Linked DNA regions of Homo sapiens. The protein of the gene in region 1 interacts with the protein of each later gene in a pairwise test. Each region holds a gene or a part of one and is shown on either strand. Other genes may lie near its edges.

What was found. The genes of interacting proteins can lie anywhere in the genome.
Region 2: the proteins of STX1A (region 1) and VMA12 interact in binary tests that used the Homo sapiens proteins (3 or more experiments, as listed by UniProt).
Region 3: the proteins of STX1A (region 1) and TMEM41A interact in binary tests that used the Homo sapiens proteins (3 or more experiments, as listed by UniProt).

Annotation. Positions count from the first base shown.
Region 1 is NC_000007.14:73,709,670-73,716,744, forward strand, and holds part of STX1A (syntaxin-1A), read right to left. Parts: intron 1,729-7,075; exon of another isoform or gene 1,648-1,728; intron 1-1,647. UniProt on the Homo sapiens protein: Plays an essential role in hormone and neurotransmitter calcium-dependent exocytosis and endocytosis.
Region 2 is NC_000017.11:28,352,913-28,360,646, reverse strand, and holds the start of VMA12 (vacuolar ATPase assembly protein VMA12), read right to left. Parts: upstream 3,001-7,734; 5' UTR 2,977-3,000; coding exon 2,766-2,976; intron 1,732-2,765; coding exon 1,658-1,731; intron 1,333-1,657; coding exon 1,243-1,332; intron 119-1,242; coding exon 76-118; intron 1-75. Other genes in the region: POLDIP2 (polymerase delta-interacting protein 2), read left to right, coding at 3,199-3,359, 4,771-4,852, 6,062-6,159, 6,856-6,952, 7,331-7,406, 7,628-7,734. UniProt on the Homo sapiens protein: Accessory component of the proton-transporting vacuolar (V)-ATPase protein pump involved in intracellular iron homeostasis.
Region 3 is NC_000003.12:185,496,036-185,503,557, reverse strand, and holds the start of TMEM41A (transmembrane protein 41A precursor), read left to right. Parts: upstream 1-4,522; 5' UTR 4,523-4,596; coding exon 4,597-4,715; intron 4,716-6,576; coding exon 6,577-6,730; intron 6,731-7,522.

The sequences.
Region 1 (7,075 bases):
TCCCGAGTAGCTGGAATTATAGGTTTCCACAACCATGCCTGGCTCCAGTGGTTTTAATTCAGGTGGAGCCCAGAGGTCCCAAGCTCCCTTTCCAGAGTGGGCCCTATAAGGGGAGACCTGCCTACTGTGTCCCAGCCCTGGGCACCACTAAACCCCAGTCCCGAGGTGGCACGGATCAGATCTCTTAGGAATCTCCTGTGAGTCTTTTTTTAAAACAGTTTTTAAATTTAATTTTTATTTTTGTAGAGACGGGGGTCTCACTGTGTTACCCAGGCTGGTCTTGAACTCCTGGCCTCAAGCGATCCTCCTGCCTCAGCCTTCCAAAGCACTGGGATTGTAGGTGTGAGCCACTGCACTTGGCCTCCCTGTCGGTCTTGCCATTGGACCTCGGTCTGCCTCCTTCCAGTCCCCAGACCTGGGCCCAGCAGGCACAAGGGGACAGTCATGTTGCCACTTGGCTTGGGTCCTGCCTTAGGCCTCAGCCACAGTTACAAGCCCCACTCCACTGTCCCAGGACCAGCTGTACAAAAGCCACCCCCATCGTGGGGCAGGGGTAATCATACTTCTGACTTCCCAGCATGCTGCGCACAATTATTACTGTCTGCCTCATACCGCCAGTTGGCCAGGGTCAGCCCACGCTGCTGGCAAGGCCAGGTCTCTCTCTGCAGCCAAGGCAAGGATATCCGGGGTGGCCACCCTGGGGCAGGGACTGAGGTCTCTCAGCCTGGGGCTCAGGGCTTGTTCCCACCTCTTTTATTTTTATTTTTTTATTTTTTGAGAGAGTCTCGCACTGTCACCTAGGCTGGAGTGCAGTGGTGTGATCTTGGCTCACTGCAACCTCCACCTCCTGGGTTCAAGCAATTCTCCTGCCTCAGCCTCCCGAGTAGCTGGGATTACAGGTGCATGCCACCATGCCCAGCTAATTTTTGTATTTTTAGTAGAGACAGGTTTCACTATGTTGGCCAGGCCGGTCTCGAACTCCTGACCTCAGGTGATCCACCCGCCTCGGCCTCCCAAAGTACTGGGATTACAGGCGTGAACCACCACATCTGATCTTGTTCCCACCTCATTTCTGAGTGCCTCACGGGAGTGGCCACTGACTAGCTCAGCACTGACCCCACCTCGGTGCTCTCGCGTCAGGACGGAGGCAGGTGGAGGTTGAGGGGCTGAGAGAACTGATGGGACTCATCAGGCTGGGCCTTAACCCCTCTGGCTCTATTTACTCTTCTGTGAAATGGGGACAGTGACACCTGGCTGCATGGAGGGAGGGCTGAGAAAAAGTGGGGAAGCAGGGCAGGTATGTTTGTTTGATTGATGGATGGACTGATTGATTGATTGAGACAGGGTCTCGCTCTGTCACCCAGGCTGGAGTGCAGTGGCACAATCATAACTCCCTGTAGCCTCAACCTCCCGGGCTCAAGCCATCCTTTCACTTCAGCCTCCCAAGCAGCTGGGACTACAGATGCATCAGATGCATGCCACCACACCCAGCTACTTTTTGATTTTTTTTTTTTTTTTGTAGCGACAGGGTCAAACTATGTTGCCCAGTCTGGTCTCAAACTCTTGGGCTCAAGTGATCTTCCCACCTTGGCTTCCCAAAGTGCTGGGAGTATAGGTGTGAGCCGCCACCATGCCCGGCCTGAGCATGTTCTGTGAGGGGCTCACATCACCCCATCAAAGTGGGGACTCATGGGGAGAGGGGGTAGTTAGGAGCTTTGATAGAGGCGGCTCAGAGGGGCCTCCTCTCTTTAAGATATCGTACCACCTCCCCAGCAGCTAAAATAAATCCTCGTTCCCACTCCCCACCGAGTGCCTGGGGCTGTCACCAGGTGGTACCCCCTCCCCCACCAAGCTCCCTACAGACACAGAAAATCCAGGAGCCGTTTTCACGCTTTTAGACCGTGACAGGCCTAGGAGTTGAGTCAGAGGAGCCCTCCCTAGGGAAACTGAGGCAGAGCACTGCCAGGAGGAGCCCAGTTCCTCCTCCTGGGCAGGCTGCCAGGTTGGGAAGTGGCCCCAGGAGCTCCTGCCATTCAGTGTCCTGCCCTCTCTGCCCTGGTGCTCAGAGGATCAGGGTAGATGACAAAGGGTGGATGGAGAATTATCCAGCTCCTTTTCCGTGGCCAGAGACGAGCGTCACTGCCAGCCCCACCGAACCCCTGTCCTGCCCTCAGAGACCCCTGGCACCTGTCTGGTGCCTCTCTTGACCTCAGCTTGCCCATCTGTGTAATGAGGGCAGATCTTCTCCAGGCATCCGGCCAGCTCTGACCTGCTACCTTCCCAGAAGGCTGAAGGCTGGACCAGGAAGCTTCTCTAACAGAAGGGCTGGGAGGAGAGATGCCCGCATCCTCCTCTGGACCCTCCGTCTATGAGGGTAGGGCTGGGGAAAGGGAGATCAGGGCCAGGGTAGATGGGGGCACGCAGGTCAAGTCTACCCTGGAGGTGGCATTGAGATTGGCCCCAAAGCCAGTCGGGGGGCTGAGGGCCTGACCTCTGAGGCATGGTCAAACCAGCCACAGCTCCAAGCAAAACCTAGAGGGGATGGGCGAAGTGGGCCTTTCCTCCCCACGTCCTTCTACTTCTTCGTTCTTGGGAATTTTCACCCCCAGCTCTGCTCTTTATCCTGCTGCCCTCCCCTGGGATCAGACCCCACTCCCCCACACCTACAACTGGTTCCTGGCCCTACAATCCACCCTCTGCCCCCAACTTCCCCCAGGCACATCCCTTTGCCCGGGATGCTGATTCCATGAAGGTGACATTCCCTTCTTCCTCGATGCCACCTCCTTCCAGAAGCCTCCCTGCCCCCCCAAATCAGTATCTCGCACCTTGTTCTTCCACACGCCATTCACATTCCTATTGGAGCCATGGCTGAAAACTCTCAGGCCCTAAGGGACCTGAAAAGTCCCCCTGGCTTCAGCTGCCAGCCTCAGCTTGCAAACCTCCTGTGACAGTGAGCTCACTAGCTTCCCCAGACAGCTCTGCCCATCTCGGGCAGCCCCAACTGTTAGAGTCCTTCTCTTCCCTGTGGTTTGGTTCCAGGCCATAAAGAACCTGTGGGTGCCCTCTCCCTGGGGTACCCCTGCTATAGATTTGAAGGCGGCATCCACATCCTCCCTAGATTTTTCTTTTTAAGTATTCCTTCCCTTTCAGATCCTTCCCAGGGACCCCAAATTACAGCCCCTGCCCAAGAGTTGTTCCACTGTGCCTCTGTCTCCTGTCATACAGCACACAAACTGAATCTGCTGCTGACTGTGGTCTGGGCAATGCCAAAGATCTGGCCCATCCCCTCCCTCTTTCTATATGATCTACCTCTAGTAATACAGCCAGGAATCAGATAAGTGATCATGTAGCATTTCCTGTCAAGAAAAGCCCCAAGCCCTTCCCAACCACTGTCTGTGGAGTGGATTTGGGGTTCGAGTGAAGGACCTTCTTCCTGTTTCATTTCTTCATTTGTTCTGATGCTTATTTCAGTTTGTGGGATTCTGATGGCTCCTGGCTCTGTCGCCCCTGCACCCTCATCCACATCCAAGCTAGAGCCTGGTGGCAGCATTCTAGAGATGTCCTCCAGATTCACTCAGATAAGGAATCAGTTCTCATTGGACACGGAATAAACTGATAAGGACGCGGGATGGCAGAGCCCCACTGCCACCCTCACCTCCTCTGTTTCCCAGCCCAGACACACTCTTGACCAAAATGTAACTAGGTGATGTGGCTACCCTGGCATGCTGTCTTCCTGGTGTCTTGGGCTGGCCAGGGCGGGCACTGTATACATAAAGTGGCCAAGCATGATGGCTCACGCCGGTAATCTCAGCACTTTGGGAGGCCAAGGTGGGAGGATTACTTGAGTCCAGGAGTTTGAGACCAGCCAGGGCAACATAGCAAGACCCCATCTCTATCAAAAGCTACAAAAATTAGCTGGGCGTGGTGCCATGCATCTGTAATTGCAGCTACTCAGGAGGCTGAGGTGGGAGGATTGCTTGAGCCCTGGAGGTCGAGGCTGCAGTGAGCTATGATCGTGCCATTGCACTCCAGCTTAGGTGACAGAGCAAGATCCTGTCTCAAAAAAACAAAAGTGGACACACAGATTTCTGTGGAATAATTAGGGCCCAGCTCCCTTGGGGATCTACCAATGCTTTCTGAGTGGCATTCACAGCTCTGGAGAGGGGGCTGGATTGGAGTTGGGGACTTGGAACCCTTCGCTGTGCAGGTGGCAGCTGGAACTGTGGGGCACAAACTCAAAGGCCCAAGTGTCTTACGGACGGATGTGCCCAGATATCATACGGGCACCTTGCCTGCCTCCTGGCCAAAACCAGGCTCCACCTGTTTTGCCAGAGCCCCATCCTCTGAACTGCCTAGCGCAGAACCCCAAGCCAGAAACCTAGGACATCTGCCATCTTCCTCCTCTTCTCCCATCCAACCAACATCCAATTTGTCCTGGCACTTTTTTTTTTTTTTTTGAGGCAGAGTCTCGCTCTGTTGCCCAGGCTGGAGCGCAGTGGCGCAATCTCGGCTCACCACAACCTCCGCCTCCCAGGTTCAAGCGATTCTCCTGCCTCAGCCTCCCGAGTAGCTGGGATTACAGGCACCCGCACCACACCCGGCTAGTTTTTGTATTTTTAGTAGAGACGGGGTTTCACCATGTTGGCCAGGCTGGTCTTGAATTCCTGACCTCAGGTGATCCACCCGCCTCGGTCTCCCAAAGTGCTAGGATTACAGGCGTAAGCCACCGCGCCCAGCTCTTTTTTTTTTGAAACAGAATCTCGCTTTGTTGTCCAGACTGGAGTGCAGTGGCAAGATCATAGCTCACTGCAGCCTTGATCTCCCAGGCTCAAGCAATCCTCCAGCCTCAGCCTCCAGAGTAGCTGGGACTACAGGTGCCTGCCACCACACCTGGCTAATTTTAAATTTGTGTAGAGATGGTGGTCTCACTATGTTGCTCAGGCTGGTCTCAAACTCCTGAGCTCAAGCAGTCTTCCCGCCTCAGCCTCCCAAGTAGTTGGTACTGCAGGTGTGAGCCCCCAAGCCCAGCTAACATCCTGGTGTTTTTTTGTTCTGCATTCAGCAGTTCTCAAAGCTGGGCGAGCACCAGAATCCTTTGGGGGGGTTAAAAAAAAAAAACAAAAACGGCTTCCAGGGATCCACCCCAAAGAGACTGAATCAGAATTTATAGGGGTAGCCGGGTGCAGTGGCTCATGCCTTAATCCCAGCACTTCGGGAGGCCAAGGTGGGTGGATCACCTGAGGTTAGCAGTTCAAGAACAGCCTGGTCAACATGGCAAAACCCCATCTCTACTAAAAATACAAAAATTAGCCGGGTGTGATGGTGCATGCCTGTAATCCCAGCTACTCGGTAGGATGAGGCAGGAGAATCACTTGAACCTGGGAGGTGGAGGTTGCAGTGAGCCAAGATTATGCCACTGCACTCCAGCCTGGATGACAGAATGAGACTCCGTCTAAAAAAAAAAAAAAAATTGGCTGGGTGTGGTGGCTTACACCTGTAATCCCAGCACTTTGGGAGGCCGAGGCGGGCAGATCACGAGGTCAAGAGATCGAGGCCATCCTGCCCAACATGGTGAAACCCCGTTGCTACTAAAAATACAAAAATTAGCCGGGCATGGTGATGCACACCTGTAGTCTCAGCTACTCAGGAGGCTGAGGAAGGAGAATCACTTGAACCCAGGAGGTGGAGGCTGCAGTGAGCTGAGATGGCACCATTGCACTCCAGCCTGGAGACAGTGCGAGACTCCGTCTAAAAAAACAAAAAAAAAACCAACAAAAAACACCACCTCCAACCAGGAAGGCTGGGAGGGAGTGCTCCTTACCTCCCTAGCATGGAGACTGCTAGGAAGAACAGACCCTGCTGGAACCACGGGGAGCTGGATGCCCTGAGCTTCCCCTGGCAGAGGTGGGGCAGCCCTGGTGGTCTCTCCTAGCAGAGACTCCAGGATTCCAGGACACCTTCCTGGATGTAATAGTCTGACTCCTCCAAGAGGCGCAGAGGCCAGGCAGCCTCCAGGCGTGTCCCAGGGGAAGCCACCAGGCTGGCAAGGTTGATTCATCACTGCTGAGCACAGTGGCTGTTGTCTGCCTCGAGGGCTATTTTTTTCCCTTCTTCTTTTAAATGACTAATCAAAGTCAATATCACTAGTGCAGAGAGGCCCGGAGCTGAGTCAGGGGTGTGCGAGAGGCCAAGCTGGGTCTCCAGGAAAGACGGCTGTGCAATCTGAGCCTCCTCACCCTGTCTCCAGCCTCCAGCTGTGTGTACACCAGGTCCCCGCCCTGCAGAGCCTGCCCCTTCACAGGGCCCCAGAGTGGCTCAGGGAGGCAGCTTCAGGCCGTGGAAGGGGCCAGGCTCTGCCCCCACAGGCTGCATGACCTCAGATAAACACCTGGCCCTTTCTGGACCTGTTTTCTGATCTGTAAGATAGGAGGTTGAACTAGATGGTCCCGGGAGGCCGTTCCACCTGCACCCCAGATGAAAATGTACCCAAATGCATCGTTCATGCTGGGAAACCTCTGGAACGTAATGGGAGGAAGGATCGGGCGAGCCCTGTCCGGCTCCTGTTCTTACACTCTCGTGCCTGCCACTCTGCAAAGTAGGTAACACTGGCTCCATTCTGCAGATGAGGAAATGAGCAGAGGGAGATTAAGGATGAACCTGCCCGGTGTTGCCACCCAACCGCCAGACTCTTCCCAGCAACGAAAGAGAAGGGGAAACTGATGGGCAAAGCAGGGCCCTGGGCCTTCCCATCCAGGCCTGCCTGGGCTGCTCCAGTGAGTTGGGCCCTAGTCTAGACCTCAAGGCACTTCAGGGGGCCCCAGACACCAGCTGTCAGGACCACCTGCTATTCTCTCCTGGTTGAGCATTCCAATCTCTCTGCCTTCACTAAGCTGTCCCCTCCTTTGGATCACCTTCTCTCCTCCTATTCAAATCCAGCTCCTGCTCCTGTGCTATCCCAGGGTCTCTTCTTCCAGGAAGCCTTCCAGGATTGTGCTGCTCCAACTCTCCCTCCTTGCTACGTCTTCAGCCTCCTGCAACAGGTCCCATGTGTCTGTCCCACATGACCTGGCACATA
Region 2 (7,734 bases), on another chromosome or scaffold:
AGTCAAACAACAAGCCTGAGTGTCATGACCCATCTCAGGAAAAGGTTTTAGAAGCCTGATCTCCTAGTACCTCACCTTGCTTTCCCAGGTCGCTGAGAGTCCCACCATGTCTTGTATCCTGGGAAAAAGAAAAAGAAGATGATTCAGAATAGAAGCAGCTCAGAGAGCATCCATTGACAGTCTGGCTCAGCCCTCTCTATTCCCCAACATATTAACTCTGCCCTCCCCATGGATTCTTTTGTCTGGAACCATTTTGACTCTTTTCTGGACTACAGAGCAGGCATTTCGGAGAGAGGACATAGGCTGCCAGTACCCATCTACTCTCCTGTTCCAGGGTAGGAGCATGCCATAGAGTAGTAGGGAGCCCTGTCAGAAGAAATGCTCGAATGGCTGGGCACAGTGGCTCACCTTGTAATCCCAGCACTTTGGGAGGCCGAGGCAGGAGGATCACCTTGAGGCTGGGAGTTCAAGACCAGCCTGGCCAACGTGGTCTCTACTAAAAATACAAAAAATTAGCCTGGCGTGGTGGTGCATGCCTGTAATCCCAGCTACTTGGGAGGCTGAGGCATAAGAATCACTTAAACCTGGAAGGCGGAGGCCGCAGTGAGCAGAGATCCTGCCACTGCCCTCCAGCCTGGGTGACAGAGTGAGACTCCATCTCAAAAAAAAAAAAGAAGAAGAAAAAAAGCCTCCAAGATTCATTCCCACTTATTTATTTATTTATTTATTTATTTTGAGATGGAGTCTTGCTCTTGTTGCTCAGGCTGGAGTGCAATGGTGCAGTGTTGGCTCACAGCAGCCTCTGCCTCCGCCTCCTGGGTTCAAGTGATTCTCCTGCCTCAGCCTCTCGAGTAGCTGGGATTACAGGTGCCCGCCACCACGCCAGGCTAAGTTTTGTATTTTTTGTAAAGACGGGGTTTCACCATGTTGGCCAGGCTGGTCACGAACTCCCGACCTCAAGTGATCCACCTACCTCAGCCTCCCAAAGTGCTAGGATTACAGGCATGAGCGCCGTGCCCGGCTAACTCCCACTTCTATGACGTTTAAAACTTGGTCACCATCTCAGCCCAGAGTCTCAGTGAATGAGATGGGAACTGTGTTGTTTGTATGCAGACTTCCTATGGTCCCTGAACAGTATAGAAACCAAGTTTCCATGTTTTTTCTAAACTCTGTATCTTCTTCCACTGCAGGGCCCTACTCTGAGGGGCTACCTAGACCACGTACTGAAGAGCATGTCCTTACCTGACAAGTGACGTTGCGGGTGATCCGTTTATATTCCTCATTGGCCAGCTGTATCTTAATCTTCTCCAGCCGGGCAACTAGTTCTGGGTTCTGAAGCAGAAAAATCAAATGAGAAGAATGATATTCCCAGCTTGTTAGAAAGCACATCACAATCATTGGTTCCAGGGGTAAAGCACTGCTAAAGGTATCAGGAGACCCACATACTAGTCGTAACTCCAGTGCTTTGAAACTGTTTTTTTTTTTTTTGATCTCAATTTTCCAAACAGCTGATGGGGAGGACAATATCTGGCTCCCCCAGATCCCAAAGATTTCAAAAACAATTTTTCAAGCCTAAAAGTTGATTTATAAGTTCAGTGTATCATGGATAAGCCCAACTCAGTCAATAACCACTCTCACAAACATATCCCTTACATACCCGTGGAGGCTTCACAACCTCTGGGAGATAGATTTCACTGCCTTCTAGGAGCTCATGGAGGTATAGTTTGGAATCTGAGAAGAAAAGGTTTCACAAACACAATGATCCACGAGCTGAGGTTGAAGGGTTAAGATCAAGAGGGGTGTAGCCCTTCTTTCTACCAAAATAAAACAGGGCCATCTCTACATTAATCCATTTCCAGGATCATTTTCAATTGAAAAGAATTTTGGATAATTCCATGTAGGTATCTCCCAGTGCTGCGCAGGTGACTTTAGCTGTCAGCTCTCAATTATCCTGCCAGTGTTATAACTAACAAGTAAGCCATTTACTTGTGCCTTTGGGTTAGATCAGTTCTGTGGCCACAACAGCTCTTCCCTAAATAAGTTTAGGTCATAGTGATGCTAAATGCTCAGAGGACACTAATACTAGGCAATCTCTTTCTAAGGTCCTTTCTAGTTCTAATAATTGAGCAGTCTACCCTTTGCACTTCTGGCTGGTCTATGTTACTTCTGGCAAAATACCTTATGTGCTAGTTTGTCCTGTTCCTTCCCTTTACACATAAGGGAACTGAGGCCCAGCGAGGAGAAATGACTCCTTCAAAGGATTAGTGACAGAGCTAGGACTGGAACTCACATGCTACTCTCAGGCCAGATCTTTCAACACAGCTTTTGCCATCCTATATTAAAAAAACAAACAAACAAAACAAAGTATCAGATTTCACCACTCTTGCTTTTGAGGTGGAAAGAAATCCGGATTCCTACAAGCTCACTATGCTAAGCTGATTCCTAAAGTGGAGAAAAAGAAGAGACAAAACCTGTGATATTTGTATTTGGTAAAAACCTAGACTTTCTCAAGGGTGAATTGGGCCTAGGTGTGCCTGGAAGTGAAGAGGGGGCTCTCAAAAGAGCAGAAACTGCACAAGCAAATTTGTCATCCACGAGAAATTCCCATGGGAGTTAAGAAAGTGGGTGGCCCTGGGATTTATGGAGTGACTCTTGACTTGTCTAGATGAGTGCTCCGTAGAAGAAGGGGAATGATGGGAAAAGACCTCAGGAGGGAATCGATCTGGACACAAGGAGGGGACCCCGGACTGGAGACTGGGGCTCACCCCTTTCTCTCAGATGCTGGTGCAGATCCCGGATGAGACGGAAAGAAACCAAGCGTTGGGGGCCACTGGAGCTATCACCGCCCTTGTGCTTCTTCCCCAGCGCGGCCTCAAGCTCGGCCCGCAGCTTTCGGGGTAGCCGCTCTGGCTCCAGCTCCCCGCCGGGGCCCAAAGCACGCACCAATCGCTCGCCCGCAAGCAAAGAGGACGCCATATCTAGCCGGCTCTCCGGTCAGGTGACCCCAACCCGGACTTCCGCCCGCCGCGCGCCGGAAGTAACGCTAAGCGCACCGGAAGTTGCTCTGAGCTCCGGGGTGGGACCAGGCGGGCCAAGAGGGCCGGGACGCCGCGCGGGGCAGTGTGGGACTGGGGCGGAACGCCGCCCGGCCGCGGGTCGGGCTCTGTGTCAGCAGCCGGGCGGGCGCTCGGGCGGGACATGGCAGCCTGTACAGCCCGGCGGGCCCTGGCCGTGGGCAGCCGCTGGTGGTCCCGGTCGCTGACTGGGGCCCGGTGGCCAAGGCCGCTCTGTGCGGCGGCCGGAGCTGGAGCCTTCTCGCCAGCGTCGACCACGACGACGCGGAGGCACCTCTCGTCCCGGTGAGGGACGGAGCCAGGGGGCGCGAGGAACTGGGCCTGGAGCCCAGAGAGCGTGTTCCTAGCCAGTGCGGAGGCCAGGGGCCCGGGCCTGCTGAGGGTGACTGGAGTTTGACCCGGGAGAGGGTCCCGAGCAGGGAGCCGACCTGCGCTGTCTGGGACATGTGCCAGGAGCAGGGAAGCCAGCGCGGCCCAGAGCCCTGGTTGTACAGGGCTGGCCCTGGGGGGGAACAGGTTACCCTCCCCAAGTGAATCCTACTTCCCCGGCTGGGGTCCCCAGCACCGATGTCAGAGGGAAGCTTTTTAATTCAGCCCTAGGGCATTGGCTTGAACCCTCAGCCTTTGGATTTGGTGAAGGTCTGCCTCAGAAAGATGCTAGAGGTGGGAAACGAGACTCTTGGGTGTGGACCCTCGTAGGCCCCAGGTTTCCAAGTGACTTTGGGGAGATCGATTTTCTATCTGTGACTTGGGGAAGGGGGTTTGAGGCCATGGGGATGGTGTGGAAACTGTTTCCACGGATGGGACAGGCGGATCAAATGGGCTGGTGGATCAGTGGGAGGAAGCATAAAGTTCACATCTTCAAAACAGTAAAAACAGCCTTTATTTGAAGGGCCCCTAGAAAGAGCAGCCCTGTTCAGAGTGGTGACTGACATTTTAGTGGCTGATATTAGACACTGAACATTGGGGAGAGATGATAGCTATTTGCAATTTAAGACCCCTGTGAGAATATGAACAAAAACGGTATTGAGAGAGCGATGTGCCGTAGGAAATCTAGAGATGTTTAAGCTTTTCAAGGGCAATGTAAGGGCTACAGGTTAGAGGGGGAGATGGACATGGAATTATAATACAGGACAAATATTTTTTGAGCACCTCTTGTACACTAGGCTCTGAGGGGGCAGTACCAGCTAATCAGACTCAGGCATTGCTCCCAGGGAATTTACAGTATTTAATAAAGATAAGACATGGACACAACTGAAATGTAAAGGGAGCAGGATATTGTTTGATGACTTGTGATATAGAAAATGTAAGAAAAGAAGAAAAAAAGATACTCCCCTTCTAAAAAAATTGAAAAAGTGAGCAAGACAGTTAAAGTGCTGTGGGAGGTCAGGAGGGTGGGTTAGGGAAGAAACAAGGGCAGGGGTACATTTGAGCAGAGTGTGAGGGCATGATATGAAGAATGCCCAGTGAAGAGAGAAGACAGTAGTATGGGAGCGGTCACATCTAACACTGGGAGACTGTGGAGGTTTTCACCAAGGAGGAGGAAAGCCTTTCCTGCTCCAGCTGGTCCCACTACCCCAAACCCTTCTCTGCTGTCATCGCCCTGGCCCCTCAGTATCCTAGGAGCTTTTTCTTATGGATAACTACCATTACCTTCTCAGCTTTTCTGTTGCTTGTTCTTTTCCTTCCTACTCAGAAACCGACCAGAGGGCAAAGTGTTGGAGACAGTTGGTGTGTTTGAGGTGCCAAAACAGAATGGAAAATATGAGACCGGGCAGGTGAGTATTGGGCTGGGTCATCTTTCATTTTCATAGAGTGCTCTGCTTCTGAAAAAAGTCAGATTAGGTCACAGGCCTGCATGGTATGGTGTTCCATTCATTCCACCTTGATGTTTGGTGCCATTCCAGAATCAAATTTGTATTCATTTTTTATTTTATTTATTTATTTTATTTATTTATTTTTTGTGAGACGGAGTTTCAGTCTTGTTGCCCAGGCTGGAGTGCAATGGCATGGTCTCGGCTCACTGCAAGCTCCACCTCCTGGGTTTAAGCAGTTCTCCTACCTCAGCCTCCCTAGTAGCTGGGATTACAAGCATGCGCCACCACACTTGGCTAATTTTGTACTTTTAGTGGAGATGCGGTTTCTCCATGTTGGTCAGGCTGGTCTCGAGCTCCCGACCTCAGGTGATCCACCTGCCTTGGCCTCCCAAAGTCCTGGGATTACTGGCGTGAGCCACCGCACCCAGCCCAGAATCAAATTTTTATAGATAGGGTTTCTGTTCTCCTGGATTTGAATGCACTTAATGTGTCAGTGGGTTCTCTTTCCAAGTTAATGTGGACAGGGATGGTGTGGACTATAGTGAGGTTTAGCCAAGTTGCTGAAGATTTCTCTAACATAGTGGATGGTGGGAAGCCGTGGAGGGAGCTTTCAGAAAAGTATACCTTTGATGCTTTGCCGTAATAAAATTGACTTCAGTGTGGTAAACTCTGGATGTGTGGTTCTTTTTCTATATCAGCTTTGTTCTGGGTCCACTGGGATAGATTTAGGCCCTTCTAGGATATTGTAGGTAAGGAAGACTTTTTGTTTGTTCAACATTTTATTTTTCTGTGTGCCTACAATGGACTAGGCATTGTGCATTAGGGTTAAATCAGAAAGCAAAGTAGACATGATTCCTGCTATTGTGGAGTTTCTAGTCTAGAAAAGAACGATTTGCAAATGGCCAATAGCTGTACATTGTGCTAAGTGGAAGGGAGGTCAGGGAAGGCTTCCTGGAGGCCTAAGCTTTTACCTAAAGGATGAGTAGAGTCAGCCAGGTAAAGAAGAAATAAGAGTGTTCCAGCATTGGTCTGGTTGATCACAGACTTCAAGGGAAGAGGTAGCAAGACCTTGTGCTGGAGTTGCCTCCACCTGTGTTGCTTTGTGGTCTGGGGCCCACCTGGATGGATTTGCTGGACTGCAGACTCACTGAGGCCCCTCTTTCCTTCCAGCTTTTCCTTCATAGCATTTTTGGCTACCGAGGTGTCGTCCTGTTTCCCTGGCAGGCCAGACTGTATGACCGGGATGTGGCTTCTGCAGCTCCAGAAAAGTAAGTTTCCCTGTGGTTGTGCCTCACAGTATCCTCAGGAGGAGATGGCAGACATATGTAATTGGGGTACTAGGGGTGAAGACAGCGTCCTCCTAGGCCTTGGAAACATCCCCAGAGTACTTCTCTGGGACTAAGACCCATGGAGACAAAAGTGCTGAGTGCCAGGGATAGTCTAAGTCAGAGAGTCCCTTTAGGCCTCCTCAGAATGCTTTCCTAAGCCATTCCTAATTTTCATTATGAGTATCCCAGAGGGCATTTGGGGGACAAGTCTTCTTGATTTCTTGATGTTCAGCTGGAGTCTTTCCCTCAATCTCACATCATCCCTAGAATACATTAAAACAGAAAAGGTTCAGCCCCATTAAGTGATCACAGACAGTCCCTGGGATATAAGAAGACAAGAGTACTCTGGGCCCTGGGGACTGAGGTGGCAATTTGATTTTCTCAACATGGCCCCCTTCTTTTAAGAGGTATCCACACGGTCAGATGATGGCTCCATACCATGGTCTTCCATGCTCTATTATTTGCCCCAACTGAGGAGCAGCTGAGCTGAGGTGCTGCAGAGCAGGTGTCCAGCTGGTGCTAAAGCCCCTTTAGATCAGAGACCAGCCTGTTTAGGTGAGGAGGAGTAGGGAGCTGAGTCAGCCACAGCTTCCATTTCTCCTGGGGTGATCTTGGCCTCCTTCTCCCACCCCATAGAGCAGAGAACCCTGCTGGCCATGGCTCCAAGGAGGTGAAAGGCAAAACTCACACTTACTATCAGGTGCTGATTGATGCTCGTGACTGCCCACATATAGTAAGTAAGCAAGATGGCTGGGCTTGGGGGTCCTCTCCATGGAAAGTCCTGCATCCCAATGGGGACAAAGGGAGGGAAGGGGGTCAAACAGAGCCCAGGTCAGTCTTGGTCCCCAAGGCCTTGGACTGCACAGTGGCCAACAAAGCCCTGATTCACGTCTTTTTTTTTTTTTTTGATATGGAGTCTCACTCTGTCGCCAGGCTGGAGTGCAGTGGTGAGATCTCAGCTCACTGCAACCTCTGCCTCCCGGGTTCAAGTGATTCTCCTGCCTCAGCCACCCGAGTAGCTGGGATTACAGGCATCTGCCACCACACCAGCCTAATTTTTGTACTTTTTAGCAGAGACATGGTTTCACCACTGATTCACTTCTTGCCTTAGTCTCAGAGATCTCAGACAGAAGCTGTGACCTTCTTGGCTAACCATGATGACAGTCGGGCCCTCTATGCCATCCCAGGTGAGTAGTTAGCATTTGAATGGTGCCCGTCAAGAAGGAGTCTGGTGTGTCTCAGGGAGAGGATTCTGATGTCCTGTCATCCACTGGGAGGGATTATGATGCTGAGAGGTATGATATCAGGGTTATCCCATACTGGAACAAGGCCAGTTAATGTTTCTTCTCAACCCCATCTCTCTCCTCTCCTGTGAGTTTCACCACTGTCTTTTGCATCTCTGTGCCAGGCTTGGACTATGTCAGCCATGAAGACATCCTCCCCTACACCTCCACTGATCAGGTTCCCATCCAACATGAACTCTTTGAAAGATTTCTTCTGTATGACCAGACAAAA
Region 3 (7,522 bases), on another chromosome or scaffold:
AATCCAGCATGTGCCTGGGAAAGGACTGCAGTTGACAGAGGATTGCAGCTGTCCTTTGTCAGACTGTGTGGGCCTGTGCTGTAAATGAGTGGCCTCGATGGGGGCTGCTGCAGCCTGCGGGAGGTGCACTGGGTGGTTAGAGTCAGCTCTGCAGGTACTGGGTTGGGGGCCAGGAGGGTTGGGAATACTGAGATTGGGGAAACACAGTCCAGGGCTTCTTCCCTAGGCAGACAGGTTGAGCGAGAAGAATGACAACATGAGTCCAGGGGGCAGGTCAGAGGAAGCAAGCAGATGCTCCAGTTGTGAGCCTGTAGCAAAGAAGGTTAGCACCACCAAAAATAGCTCCATCAAAGGTCCCTTATCGCCTCGTGTTGGCCAATTGCCATGACCCTCAGGTTTCCCTGCTGGGTTTCTCCATGGACTCTGACACTTGCCCCAGTTCCTTTCCTAACAGTCTTTCTTGGGCTCTCAGGACATTTCTTTTTTTCTGTTTCTCATCTCACAAATGAAACAGTGCATCTTGTTCTCTTTCACTGTTTCCACCATTTCCTTACCAGGCTCCTGATTTCAGTCTTCTTTCTCAAAAGGGTAGTGCATGGTAAGACATTTGGGCTCTGCTGTTTGCGAGGTGTGTGACCTCTGTTGCTCTGTTGACTTCATTCTTCCTAAGCTTCATTTTCCCAGGCTATAAATGTGGGACTGTTAAGAGTTCCTACTTTAGACCGGGCATGGTGGCTGAAGCCTGTAATCTCAGCACTCTGTGGGGCCAAGGCAGGAGGAACACCACAGGCCAGAAGTTCAAGACTAGCCTGGGCAACACAGTAATACCCTGTCCCTCAAAAAAGAGTTCCTACTTAATGAGGGTTGTTATATGGAATAAATAAATATATAATAGAATAAATAAATAAATAAATAAATAAATAAATAAATAAACAAATTGACAAGGCAAAACTTATTCCACTTCAGCAAAGCAAGTGTCAATATTCTACTTATGGATGAGTGGAGGAACACATGTTCAGATGAAATCACTTGTGCAAAGTGATTTCACTTTTACTTTTAAAAGTGTAAAAGGCTTAGTATGGGCCAGGTGCGGTGGCTCACGCCTGTAATCCCAGCACTTTGGGAGACTGAGGCGGGCAGATCATGAGGTCAGGAGATCAAGACCATCCTGACTAACACGATGAAATGCTGGCTCTACTAAAAATACAAAAAATTAGCTGGGCGTGGTGGCACACACCTGTAGTCCCAGCTACTTGGGAGGCTGAGGCAGGAGAATCGCTTGAACCCAAGAGGAGGAGGTTGCAGTGAGCCGAGATTGCACCACTGCACTCCAGCCAGGGCAACAGAGCGAGACTCCATCTCAAAAAAAAAAATGCTTAGTATGGGGTCTGGAGTGTACTAAGTACTCAATGAAAGTCAGCTGCTGTTACTTTCCCTCTCTTGTGGTTTCTAGGAGACCTTCTCCCCTCCCCTCATTTCAACTATCTCCTGTAGAATGACCTCCAAATCTGAATGTTCGGTCCGAGCTCCAGAGTGTCACCTGCATGTCGAATGGCAGTGAAGGGCAGAGGAAAAAGCATGGCCGCACATGATGGCAGACAAAGGCTTGTTCCTGTTCAGCACTAACAGCTGTAAACTTTGCACAAGTGATTTCATCTGAACATGTGTTCATCCACTCATCCATAAGTAGAATATTGACACTCGCTTTGCTGAAGTGGAATAAGTTTTGCCTTGTCTATTTCATCCATGGCACTTACCATGCTCTAGAATGACATCTTTCCATGCTCTTCCCCAGCTGAAATGAAAGTGAGGTCCTTGCCAGCAGGAGCCTTGCCTCCTTTCTCCTCACTCTATTCCTTGCCCCAGCAGTCTCCTAGCACAGGCTCAGTAACATCAGTTCCTCATTCACTTTCTCTCCTCCTATATCCCTTTGACTTCTCAAGGTCAGTATGTATCAAACCAAACAACTAATCATTGTCTTCACTAGACCTGACCCATGAATTTAACAAACAAGTATTAAGTGCCAGGGTTAAGGGTTGAGACAGAAAGAAGATAGTTGAGACATTGTCTCATTGATGGAAATGTTCACTGTCTACTAGGGAGATGGATAATGACACTGGAATATGTATTTGTGACAGGATTAGAGACATTTCTCAGGGGGCCCCAAGCATAGAGAAGGAATGATTCTGACTATAGGGGTTGGAAAAGCCCTCTCAGAGAAGGTGATAATTATCCTGGGTCCTGATGAAAGAGTAGAAATTTGCCAGGCAGAGAAGATTGACAGATGGCTAGAAGAGTGGTGTGATGGGGCATGAACTAACATGGTGTGTTCAGCTGGAATGGAGGGCTGACACCATTTTCCCCCATTTTCTTAAGTGGAAATTTGACACATACACAAGAATAGAAAAAAAAATAGTTTAACACCCAAATAGTATAAAACACCCAGGTGATCACCCAGCTTCAACAACTATCAGCTCATGGACAATCTTGTTCTACCTACATGCTTACTCACTAAACCCCCATACCATTATTTTGACACAAATCTCAGACATTGAATAATTTCATTTGTAAATAATTTTTGGTTCTACATGCTATAACAATTCTGTGAAAAAAATTTTAAATAAATAAATACTTTGGTATCTTAAAAAGTTAAAGTATATCCTCTTTTTGTCCTTAAAAAGGAGTGATACATAGCATACTCTAACACTGCAACTTGTTTGTTTTATTTGTATCTTAGCCATCTATCTGGTGACCACACTGTATCAGGATATGTAGAATTGCTTTCCTCTTTTAGGAGGCTACCTAGTATTCCATTTGTGAATAGTTAACCTAGCCAGTCACCAGCTGATGGGCATTTAGGTTGTTCCCAATCTCCTAACATAAAAACAAAGCTGAGAGAATACCCTTAAATATACATCTTTGCTACCTATGGGGATTCTTGGATGTGGAATTAAATTCCAGTACATTCTTGGATGTAGGTTACATTCTTGGACGTAGAATTGCTGAGATCTTGTGCACATGGATTCTGAAAGGTGCTCCCTATTTGGCCCAACAGGTGCTTTAAATGATAGGACAAGGATGCTTTCTCTCTGTTGTCCAGGCTTTTGACACTTTGGAGTTCTCTTTCTGTCCCTTCCTTCGTTTACTCAGTGACATATCATACCAATCCAACTACCCCCAGCCTCCTCCCTCCATGTCCACTGCTGTGGTCCTGGGTCAGGCCTGAGTGCTTTCTTTCTTTCTTTTTTGAGACAAAATTTCGCTCTTGTCGCCAAGGCTGGAGTGCAGTGGTGCAATGTCGGGAAAGTAACTGCAACCTCTGCCTTCCAGGTTCAAGCGATTCTCGTGCCTCAGCCTCCCGAGTAGCTGGGATTACAGGCACATGCCATCATGCTCGGCTAATTATTGTATTTTTAGTACAGACGGGGTTTCACCATGTTGGACAGGCTGGTCTCGAACTCCTGACATCAAGTGATCCGCCCGCCTGGGCCTCCCAAAATCCTCGGATTACAGGCGTGAGCCACCATGCCCAGCCAGGCCGGCGTACTTTCTTATCAGGACAGTTGTGGCTATCAAGTCAGCACGTATTCTAATCATCTGCCAAAGCGAACATCCTAAAACAGGAACGAAATCATTCTCTTACTTAAACACCTCTGTTGGTGTCTCATCTACATTATTAAAAATCTAACTCCTTAGCCTGCCTTCAGTGCACTCTTGTTTGTCCCCAGATTCTCACTTATTTCTCATATACCTTAGGCTTCACTGAAACTGGATTCTGGTGCCTTACCTGGGACCGTGTTCACCCATTCCCTTCTTTTTCTGCTTGAAGAAAAGTGTTGCTCATCCTTGAAGGTAAACTTAAACTCCATGTCCTCCATAAAGCCACACAGTGTTAAGGGCCACTGGTTTTGGACTCAGGTTGACTTGGATTCTTATACTGTCTCTCTTTTGGGGGGATGTCATTTAATTCTTCTGAAACTCAGAGTTTTCATCTGTTAGAGAAAGACAAAAATACCTACCTTGGAGGATGATTGTGAGGCTCAGGGATGCGGGAATATAGTAGGAGCTGAATTAAAAGCAATTCTGATTATTTCCGTGGTCACTATTGCCGCCCCACCGCACTTGATTGCAGCCCCTGGTGCTACACCAGCTACATTTGCTTTATGTGACAGCAGGTTGTGGACAAGACTGCCTTGATCTCTAGACTGCAAGCTCGCTGTGGGCCGGGCTCACGATTCACCCCCGGATCTCCCAGCCCTGGCACCAAGCCGGCACTGGGGGCGCGCCATGCCTGCAGAATAAGTGGGGAAAGCGACAGGGATAAACGTAGAAAAACAAGCACAGACAGACGGAGAGAGGGCAGACTGGGAGGCAGGTTTTTCCCGGAGTCTCCACCGAAGGACAGAGAGGGCGGAGTCAGAATCGGGGGCGGGGGCCTGGCTCAGGAGGTGGGGCCTGGTTCGGAGGCGGGTCTCGGCGCGGACCCCTCCCTGGTCCGTCAGTGAACGTGCTCCGCGGGCTCAGTCCGCCCGCCGCTGCGTCCCGGAGTGCAAGTGAGCTTCTCGGCTGCCCCGCGGGCCGGGGTGCGGAGCCGACATGCGCCCGCTTCTCGGCCTCCTTCTGGTCTTCGCCGGCTGCACCTTCGCCTTGTACTTGCTGTCGACGCGACTGCCCCGCGGGCGGAGACTGGGCTCCACCGAGGAGGCTGGAGGCAGGTGCGTGGCGGGAATCCGGGTTCGGGTCAGAGGAAGGGAGCCGGGTCCGAGGACCGGGGCTGGGAATCGGAGATTCGGAGATTCGGGTTCCGGTATCGGAGGCGTTGGGAATTGAGGTTCACTTATCGGACTGGAATCCGGGTCTGGTATCCGGGCCCGCGTCCGCACGGTCTCGGACAGAAGGGTGGATGGGAGCCCGGCTCCGGGCCTGACTGGGACCTGTGTGGTGCTGGCTGCAGGGTGTGCAGGGCGTCACGCCGCGGTGCCTTTGGTTGGGTGGATTTGCCGAGGGAGACGCGGCGCTGAGCCTGCCCGCGCCGTTGCTTTCCCAGTCCCAGCCCTGGGCCCCATTTCCAGCCCACCTTCGCCCCCGTGCGGGCCCCCAGCCTCTTCAAGTCCACTTTCAACTGTCTCTCCTCCTCCCCACCCCACTTACGTCAGGTCTGCCCTTGAGACTTTAGACATTAGATCTTCAGGAGAAATATTGCATAGACAACTTTAAATTATTCACGAATTAATTATCGACTCTGCCCGTCTTCCTGGTTGTCTCTACTTTTACCTTTTTTTTTTTTTTTTCTGAGACGGAGTCTTGCTCTGTCACCCAGGCTGGAGTGCAGTGGCGCGATCTCGGCTCACTTTAACCTCCTCCTCCCGGGTTCAAGCGATTCACCTGCCTCAGTTTCCCAAGTAATTGGGACTACAGGCGCGCGCCACCACGGCCGGCTAATTTTTGTATTTTTAGTAGGGACGCGGGGGGGGGGTCTCATTATGTTGGCCAGGCTGGTCTCGAACTCCTGACCTCAGGTAATCCGCCTGCCTCAGCCTCCCAAAGTGTTGGGATTACAGGCGTGAGCCATCGCGCCTGGCCTCCTTTTCCCCTTCTAATGAACGACTGGTCGAGGCAGGAGGCAGAGCAATACTTACCTGGCCGGTTTTTGTGAGTGCTGCATACTCTTTATAAAGTGCATGGAAGTGTGCCTAGTACAGCATTGCGTGGTTAAGGGAATTACTGATATTTGACTATTAAGGCAGCTGTTTTCAGTTACTGTATTCTTTTGCTGTAGCTAAGAAGGCTCTGCTGTGGGTGTCGGACATACCGAGAGAAACTCTCGTGAGAAGTAGGAGGGTTTGCTCATGATTAATCAGTGATGGATTCAAGGACTGTTCAGATGGCAGAGGCAAGATAGCCTTGCTACTATAACCCTTGGGCAGGATTCAAAGTGCATTGAGGACCAGATTAAGAGCAGAGTTAAATAGTAGGCTCTTTGAAAGGGTTCGATTCAAGCCTGACATATTATCAAAAAAGTTACATTTATCCTATGGGATAGATATACTTTCCTGAAGAATCTCTAATTGGCTTTATAGTGAATGCTAAAAAGTCGTTTTACTTGGCACCTCAGGAACAGTTTGAAGTCTGAATTGTTCTTGGTTTGTGGGGGAGGCAGTGTCCTTGAAAGGAAGGCAATTTGAGACATTTAGAACTTGCCTGGAAATGAATCCATTTGCCTCTTAAGAACAGATTCTAAAATCCCAGAGCTAAAGGGGAACTTAATGACTGTTTAGCACCAACCTCTCACTTTTTAGATAAGGAAAGAGACTCAGGGACTAGTCCAAGGACGTAAAACAGAAAGTAGCAGGGTTGGGATGCTAACCCAGGTCTCTTGCTTCCAAACTAGGGCTCTCCTGTCTGTCTCCGCAACGTCGTATCAGGTCATCTGTCATTGGGAGTGTATGTGTTCCCAGCAGATCAGATGATGGGCATATTTATAAACCTACTCTGAAAAGAAGACACAGCGAGTGACTTTCATGGGCACTGGACTGATCTGAACTCATGTTTCCATCTGCTTTTCCAAATCCCCAGGTCGCTGTGGTTCCCCTCCGACCTGGCAGAGCTGCGGGAGCTCTCTGAGGTCCTTCGAGAGTACCGGAAGGAGCACCAGGCCTACGTGTTCCTGCTCTTCTGCGGCGCCTACCTCTACAAACAGGGCTTTGCCATCCCCGGCTCCAGCTTCCTGGTCAGTGTCCTGCCCTCCCTCCAACCCTGTTTCCTTATCTGTAAAATTTGGATACTCCCCTGTAACCTCATGGGATTGTTGTGTGGGGATGATTAAAAGTGACAGTGGGTGTATCGGGGCTGGCACACAGTGGCCCTCAGCACTTACGGAGGGATTGAGCACCGAAGTGGGAGACACTGACAGCTTCCTTTTGTACTGCTTCCCTCTCCCACCCCAGCCTGTTTCTCTCCTCTAGGCTGAGGCTGGACCTGCTCAAACAGTTTCCTTGTCGGAAACTAGAAGAAAAGCAAACATGTCCAAGAGAGGCAGGGGAGGTGTGTGGGGCTCGGGGTCAGGGGCTGACTCCTTGAGGCTGCCCTGTGTCTGTCTTCTGTCTTGAACTGATCCCTCTTCAGGGCAGAGAGCCAGCTGCTGCTTGGTGGGGGCTCCACATCCAGACCTGAGGGTGAACCCTGACTCTGCCTGCTGTGCTCTTGGGGAGGATACTTAATCTCTCACCTGTAGAATGGGGCAAGGATGGCATGACTCAGGGATGTAGTGAGGATTACACAGGACATGTAGTCAAGCACTTAACACAGTGCTTAGCGGCTCCCCAGCTTCCCACTTCCAAGGCTTCCTTTTACTTTCTCTCTTGGATCCCATGTTTTGTCAGGATGATGTCTACCAACCAAAATGCATTTAGGAAGTATTGGTTCACTTTTCCCTTTTTCTTAAACCAAGACATCTTCAAATGTCTGCTAGAGCTCTGGTCAACATGGAACCCCGGTATTAACATACTGCATAGATGTAATT